2 separate regions of the Homo sapiens genome follow, and region 2 is reported to be linked to region 1. The links are microRNA targets in miRTarBase. Many come from high-throughput screens and were not tested one by one. Region 1 holds a microRNA gene; the other region holds the end of a gene's coding sequence.
Evidence for each region. Region 1 holds the annotated microRNA hsa-miR-3612 (AGGAGGCAUCUUGAGAAAUGGA, at 1,963-1,984, opposite strand). A microRNA usually pairs through its seed, bases 2 to 8, with sites in the 3' UTR of a target mRNA and lowers its output. Matches are read on the target gene's strand: a 7mer-m8 pairs with bases 2 to 8, a 7mer-A1 pairs with bases 2 to 7 and ends in A, and an 8mer does both.

Region 1 (4,365 bases):
TGCTACTTCAGTAAATATAGGGGACAAAGAGAGACAAAGGGACTTGGACACTAGGAAGAAAGGGAGGCAAGGGGAGGTACAGAGAAAACCAATGTTCACTCATTCTTGCAAGATGCATTTCACTGCTTATTATGTGTTGAATATCCCATTACAACCTGAAGATATGGAAGGTAATAAGGAAAGGCCCATGTCTTCAAGAAATGACAGAGCAGAGAGAAAGACAGAGGAATGTACAACTAAATATGGTCTGAAAAGTACAATATTCTACAAGGATCAAGAAGGAAATAGGAGAAATTTTTAAGGTTTTTTTTTTTTAATTGGTGCTTAAAACTGAAATCTATGACTGGACTGGTCTCTGATCACTGAGCAGAATTTTATGTGGGGCTCTTATTTTTCTTCTTTCTTCAGGTTGTACCCCACCCTTTTTTCTTTCTTTTTTTTTTTTTTTTTGAAGGACTTAAAAGGCACATCAGTAACATTGGAGGGCAAGTCTAAGAAGTCGGGTAAGGAATGAAAGCATACCCAGGGGAGGGGGTGGAAGGTAGCAGGCTGTTACAGACAGGACGCCCTGGACATCACAGTTTCAAGGCGGTCATTATTTATTTTCCATGTGACCCTACACGTCTCAGTTTTCTCATCTGTAAAATGGGGATGGAACTGCCTTCCCCTCAAGTAGGTCTGAGGCTGAGAGGGAATGATGCTGATGAAAGGTCTTAGTGAATAGCTATAGCTATACCAAATATTTATTTTGGGACTGGGTGTGTTGACTCACACTTGTAATCCCATAACTTTGGGAGACTGAGGCAGGAGGACTGCTTGAGGCCAGGAGTTCGAGGCTGCGGTGAGTTGTGATTGTGCCACTGCACTCCAGCCTGGGCAACAGAGCAAGACCCTGTCTCAAACATAATATAAATTTATTTCTAGAGCTAGCTCCATACAGAATTTCAAAGAACCTTGGGGCACTTGAGTACTGGCATCTATTTGTATACAAAACAGGATGAAACAGGATAAATCATTTCTTTCTCAATTTTTTAATTTTTTTTTTTTGCTGGGGGACAAAGAAGCTTGAACTTCTTATCTATCTACCTATCTATCTATCTATTATTTATTTATTTAGGGCTCACACCAAGCATTGGTTCCTCAGATACAAGTCAAAGATGAGGAAAATGGAGGCATTAAAATATTTGAAATCTGACTACAAAATGGCTGTGTTCTAAACGTCTTTGTTCCTTGAAAATTCATGTGTTGAAATCCTCCTCTTCAGAATGGAGGTCTTAGGAGGTGGTACCTTTGGGAGGTGATGAGGTCACGGGGGTGGAGCCTCATGAATGGGATTAGGGCCCTTATAAAAGGGTCTAGGGAGATTCCTCTCCCCTCCACTGTGAGAGGACATAGGGAGAAGCCCTGTCTATGAACCAGGAAGCCGGCTCTCACCAGATAGTGAATCTGCTGGTGTCCTGATCTTGGATCTCTGGGCTCTGGAACTGCAAGAAACAAATTCCTGTTGTTTAGATGCTTCCCAGTCTCTGGTATTTTGTTAGAGCAACTAGAACAGACTAAGACAGGTGCCAATCATAAAATATCAAATTTCTTCCCATGCTCAGAGTGCCACCAGCCATTTCTCCAATGGCTTGCATTTTCTACTCTTTCCAGAATTAGAGAGGGAGAGGAAGTCAGCTGAAGCCTGAGTCCTGTTAGGGCCACCTTGCTGTGTGAGTCACTGAAGTGTGGTTTTGCTGCTGTTGAGCATTGTTGGCTGGTTTCTGCAGATTTGGTAAGCCCCAGTCTCATTCAAAAGCCCCAAAAGTGAGACGCGTGTCTGGTCTCCTTGCTCCTGTTGGTCTGCTAGGCTTGTTCTACTAGGACACCTTTGGACACCTTCCCATGGGCGGTTCACAGAGGAAGATGCTGAGCTAGGGGTGTCAGGACGCCTCTAGTGAACTGGAAGTAGATCCCATTCCTTCCATTTCTCAAGATGCCTCCTCATCCCCAGTCCCCAAAGTGAATGACTGAAGTTTCTACTGCTCTGCAAAACCCAAGATAGGTCACCATTTTATTCCATTCTGATTCCCCCAGCAGACACAACCACCTGATTCCCCTTCGGAAATATTCTGCACCAAATGAAATCCGAGTGAGGTCATTAATTATGAAAATTCACAATGCGTAATTATAATAATTACTCTGATCACATAAACATTATACCACCATGAATAATTTAATAGGAATTGTGCTTTTGAAAAGCATGGCAATTAAAATAAAACCCAGGGAGGTGACAGAGACGATGCGGGAAATATATGCTCCAGTTTGTTCAGAGGAGGCTGTGCAGTCTCCAGAATGCTCACTCTTTGCCATAAAGAATCACTCTCGACCTTAGGAGGTTGGGAGACAAAGAAGGCAATGAGAGACCTGAGAGTTTACAAATGGGCTCCACTCCTGAGAAGTGGAGATCAAGAGTTCAAAGAGAGGCTGTTTTTCCCCTAAATAAAACAAGTTCAATCATCTTTATCTTTATCCCCCAGCAAAATAAAATAAAATAAAAAATCCTGATTGAAGAAGAAATGATTCATCCTGTCTGGACACCAATTCTCAAGTGCCCCGAGGTTCTTTGAAATTCTGTAAGGAGGTAGCTCTAGAAATAAATACAAGTTTTCTGGCCTCCCGATGGGTGGTGTGTACAACTAAGCAAAACAATCAGGGTGAAGGGATTACATTTTGCACTAAAAAGAAGAAATAAGACCAATTTACCCTGTGACTTTTATTAACCATGACAAAATCTTTTTTAAGTACCTTACTAAGTTTGTGAACAAGCAGCAATTTCTGCAATGAAACGGCCCCCTGAGATTAGGGAATTAAGTTATTTGGAATGGTTGGAAAGGAGAGTTTATACTGTGGAGAGGTGCAAAATGAGACCAGAGGGAGTTTGGACCCAGTTTTTAAAGAGGATCCTCTGTCCTCACTGACAGCAATCCAGGAGACACTACAGGTTCAGATTTGCACACTCCTTACCGTTCACAAAAAGCTGAACTATTATCTTGCTGTCCGGCTTTCAAATTTTTTGAAAATCAAGGTCTACTGTAAGAATCACATTTTACAACACAAGTTGGTGCTCGTGCTTGCATATACACACACACACATACACATACCTACACCAACACACAGAAAACACAGACCTACCATGTGAAATGTGCTCTATTAGGAATAGAATTTCTATGCTATTCTGTTTATGAAAGAAAACTGCTGACAGCAACAGTCTATCAAGTTAATTCCACTGTGTCATGATCCACAGTTCTTATTGTACACTTAACAGACACTTATGAAGTGCCTCATCTAGGTACTAGGGTACCTAGGTACTAAGTACACTTATGAAGTACCTCATCTAGGAATTTAGGTACCTAGGTACTAAGTACACTTAACAGACACTTATGAATACCTCATCTAGGAACTTAGGTACCTAGGTACTAAGTACACTTAACAGACACTTATGAATACCTCATCTAGGTACTAGGGTACCTAGGTACTAAGTACACTTAATAGATATTTACAAAGTACCTGCTGTGTGCCCAGCACTCATCTAGGTACCAGGGTTTCAGTACTGGCAACAGAGACAAAATCTATGCCCACGAGGAGCTTACATTCTACTGGAACAAGTTAGAAAAAACCATTGACAAACCCATTTCTTACAACTGCTGGGTGAGGAAGTTGGGCAGGGATTGTCAAAAACAGGTTCAGGTGGGGAAGTGTGGGCCTGTCTCCCTTGTACACAGCAGGAATCTCAGGGAGGCCGGCTTTGTTTCCAAGGCTTTCCTCTAAGTTTTGCCTTTCATTCTGTTTGACCACGATTCTTTTGACTGCAAGAAACAGAAAGCAAACTTGAATGTGCATAAGAAAAAAGTGATATTTTGTCAGAATTCAGCCAGAAAAACAAAACAAAACAAAATGCTGTAGTTACTGGAACAGAAGGGCTTAAACATAGGAATTGATTACGTAGTGAGGCAAGAGTTATGAAGCAGAGACGGATGGTGAGACACCTAGATACCAGCGACAGGAGGGCACCCCGCAGCCCTAGGGGAGGAGGAACAATGGGTCCCAGGGGGTTTCCAGGGGCCAAGGCCACCCGTGGGGCAGGGTGCAAACCAGGACACAGTGCGCAGAAGCTGCCTCCGGTCAGCCGGGGTTCCTGAGACGCCCTGGCCATCACTGCAGGCAGTCCAGGAAGAAAAGCAAGAAAAGGAGAAAAGCACTGTGGCTTTCCCCACTTCAATCTCCCTCCTGTCTTCTGCCACTGCCTCAGACAGGACTAGAATGTGTCCAGAAGCCAGAAAACAAGGGAACCTGGGAGGTGCAGTTCCCTATAATCCAGAAGTG
Region 2 (4,000 bases), not on the chromosome of region 1:
AGAGGGCATGGCAGCCTTCAGGGAGAAGCGGACTCCCAAATTTGTTGGCAAATGACCCCCATTTTAACCTTCAGCATGGGAGATGCATGCCCTGAAGAGCAGGATCCAGAAGGAAGATTTGTGGCCAGATTGCCTTCATCATTTCACCTCTCCAGACTTCCATTTCTTCACAAGGATGATGATGGAAATAAAATGACTGGCGTGATGCCTGGAACCAAGGTGCTGATCCTACCACCTACTGCTACCTTCCTTAGCTTCACCCTGGCTAGAAATAATCACGAGGGTTGGGTTTGCTTTGGAAAATGCCTGTCTCTCTACTTGAATGATAAAGAATTAAATTAGATCTCTCTGAGTCTTGGTATCATTGGCTCTCAGCCCCTGACCTCTCTCAGTTATCAGGCACTCATTAGAGATGTCAGAAGATTTTAAGATACCCCTAGTTTCTTCCTGTGAACAACAGAGGTAATAAATAAACTCTGACATCGGTTGAACATGTGTCAGGGGTCAGACTGCAGATCCCAGTCTCTGCCAGTTACTTGCTGTATAACCGTGGACAAATTGTTTAAATGCTCTGGGCCTCAGCTTCCTCACCTACAAAACAAAACTTGTGAAGATTTAGCAAAATAAAAACACTTCATATTCAATAAATATGTTTTAATTGTTAACTTACAGTGTTTTCGTGAGGACCAAACGAAATCATCACTGTGAAACACTTTTGTAAACTACAGGGTGGCAGAAAATTCTTTTTATTTTTTGAGACAGGGTCTCACTCTGCCACCCAGGCTCCAGGCTAGAGTGCAGTGGCGCCATCTCAGGTCACTGCAGCCTCCACTTCCCAGGCTCAAGTGATCCTCCCACCTCAGCCTCTGGAGTAGCTGGGACTACAGGCAAATGCCACCATGCCCAGCTAATTTTTGTATTTTTTTGTAGAGACAGGATTTCGCCATATCACCCAGGCTGGTCTTGAACTATTGGGCTCAAGCAATCCGCCCGCCTGGGCCTCCCAAAGTGCTGGGATTACAGGTGTATGCCACTACACCTAGCCTCCAGGAGACTCTTTGATAGCATTTAGGAGCACTGAGAAGAAAGGGGCAATTAACTCTAATGGAAAGAAGGGAGGATCCGGAAATGGGCAACTAACATTGGAATTGAAGCCTGAAGGATTAAGGAACATTTCAAGTACAGAAGAGGAAGCTTGACACAGCATGAGCAAAGGTGAGGAAGAGGATGATACACTTAGAAAACCAAGAGCAGGCTGATACATAACCATACTGGTCCCAATACCCCTCCCTCCTCTGGTACCAAGGCTACATCTTAAGCTATGCCTTTGCAGTCATTCTCCAACTGGATCTGAGCGCTGGCTAAGCTGAGCCTCAGCCTGGCCTAGAGTCACTAAACCATGGGCATGGATACAATATAAATAACATTGCGGATTTCTGCAAAATACAAATGTGCTCCCAGGGTTATGCTTGCATCCTGGAAGGAAGAATAACACAGGAGAGCCCAGGCCTTTACAGTCAGCACAAACCACACCAGCTATGACAACCCAGGAAAGTAACCACCTTACTGAACTTCCTTTTTCTCATCTGTTAAGTGAGGAAAATAAAACTCACCTACCCGTGAGGATTGTTGTGAATGACACAGAACTTGAAAGGATGTCTTGTACAGAATTGGACTTAACACACTAGTTCCCCTAACACATCCTCACATTAGAATAAGCTAGCATCTGATAACAATGCTCTGAGGTACTAGAACCCAGGTCAGGAAGATATCCTTTTGGAATCATGCAAGAGTGTGAAAAAATACAGTACAGTTTAAGGACTATGGAAGGAAGTAAGGTTACAAATTCTGCTTATCTGGTTGGACTCTGGTAATAGTTTGGAACATGGTTTAGAGTAAGAGAATGAGCTTCTTCCTCATTTGATTTCCAAAGACAGTACATGGTACTCTAGTTAAGAATCTGAACCAAGCCAGCCAAAAGCACAAAAATCTAATCCTAAAATGTGCTAACAGAAATTTACTTTTATTTTCTGAAAAACTTAAACAGATAAATGACAAAACATGTTCATTAACAGTCAACAATAAGGCAAGGAAGGAATTCACACTATTCCTCAGAGCAGCTCCGCAAGGCTTATCAAGTAAGCTTCTGATATAGTTTATACTGTAGTTGAAGCTGGTTTCAGAAAAGCCCATGTTTTCTTTAGTCAGCATGCGGGGTAAGAAAACTCCGTGAACTCTCTGGCAAAGTCTCTTTCTGGCCTTTCGTCTTCCTACCATTTTTGGTCATGGTTCCACCCAAATAAAATGGAGGGATTCAGATTTATCATTACATGTAATCTTTCATCTAAACACTGTCTGCAAATGCCTAAGTCCCACCACGCCCTACAAGCTCACTCACATACACAGCATGTCATGCTCACATAACAGGAAACATGCCAAAGATAGACACCCAAAATTGTAAAAAGGCCAGGTGCAGTGACTCACACCTGTAATCCCAGCACTTTGGGAGGCCGAGACGGGTGGATCACGAGGTCAGGAGGTCGAGACCAGCCTGACCAATATGGTGAAACCCTGTCTCTACTAAAAAATACAAAAATTAGCCGGGCGTGGCGGCATGTGCCTGTAGTCCCAGCTACTCAGGAGGCTGAGGCAGGAGAATTGCTGGAACCTGGGAGGCAGAGGTTGCAGTGAGCCGAGATTGTGCCACTGCACTCCAGCCTGGGCGACAGAGCGAGATTCCGTCACAAAAAAAAAAAAAAAAAAAAAGGTAAAAAAATATATTTCTCTTTTCTCCACCCCTCTATTCATTTGAGATGAGGTCTCACTCTGTCATCCAGGCTGGAGTGCAGTGGTGCAATCTCAGCTCACTGCAACCTCTGCCTCCTGGGCTCAAGTGGTCCTCCCACCTCAGCCTCCAAGTAGCTAGGAGTAAAGGTGCACACCACCACGCTCAGCTAATTTTTGTATTTTTTGGTAGAGACGGAGTTTTACCACGTTGGCAAGGCTGATCTCGAACTCCTGAGTTCAGACAATCCACCTGCCTTGGCCTCCCAAAGTGCTGGGATTACAGGCGTGAGCCACCATACCCAGCCATAGATAAATAAATAAATAAATAAATTCTTTTCCCCGCTCTCCAACAGGGGTTCTGCCTTCTAAACACTACATTTTGAAGCATATGCTTCCCAAGCTTTTCTCATAGCTTCACATGACGATAACAACAAAGGAAATTTAATATAAATATCAAAGTCTCCCTGTAGGTTTCCTTTCTCTTCTAGTGAACAGGTCCCACTCCCATGACAAGCTCCCAAAGGGAAAAAATTGTCCAAGGCTAGAGAAAAGTAACTTGCATAGCTGTTCCAACACAAGCTCCCAGGCCTTCCCAGAGTCCACGGTTTGAGTCTTCAAAATTGCTGCTGAAAGGCTGCAGAATGAGTCCAACTTGACTTGGGATTACAGCTATCATACAAATCCAACCTTTTGTAACATATATAAAATCAACAATCAAAGGCCAATGAGACAGCCAACTCACAAACTCCAATGACAACTGATGTGCAATTACTGCCAGGGCAGAACACCTGACATTGAGGAAGAGCACACACCTCTGAAATTCCTTAGGTTCAGAAGGGCATTTGACACAGAGTGGGCCTCTGATAATTCATGAAATGCATTCTGAAGTCATCCAGAATGGAGGCTGCAATCTGCTGTGCTTTGGGGGTTGCCTCACTGTGCTCCTGGATATCACACAAAAGCTGCAATCCTTCTTCTTCAACTAACATTTTGCAGTATTTGCTGGCTGAAAGAAAATCAAGCAGAGACACTCCATGGACAACTGGCATTTTAAATACTCCCATGTCACCACATTCACCTTGCTGAAGAAACAATACAAAGGTTTAAGCTCTTTGGCCTAGGAATTAACAGATAAAATGAGTCAATTCTAAAGCAGTTCTTCAAAACTTGCTTGGCTTGTATGAGGTAACAGATGCTCATTTTAGTATGTTTA

Region 2: miRTarBase lists ZYG11A as a target of hsa-miR-3612. Seed matches in the 3' UTR shown: 7mer-m8 at 2,672-2,678.

The regions. Positions count from the first base shown.
Region 1 is chr12:128,291,724-128,296,088 of GRCh38, reverse strand. MIR3612 (microRNA 3612) reads right to left here and starts at 1,997; the gene lies at 1,911-1,997. The region is part of intron 1 of TMEM132C (transmembrane protein 132C); the gene reads right to left.
Region 2 is chr1:52,892,575-52,896,574 of GRCh38, reverse strand. ZYG11A (zyg-11 family member A, cell cycle regulator) reads right to left here. Exons shown (of 14, transcript NM_001004339.3): 14 at 1,577-3,793. The coding sequence ends at 3,618. It overlaps ECHDC2 (enoyl-CoA hydratase domain containing 2), which reads left to right. Exons shown (of 10, transcript NM_001198961.2): 10 at 1-665. The coding sequence ends at 55. Among named protein-coding and RNA genes, the nearest start is that of ECHDC2, 27 kb to the left of the region's middle.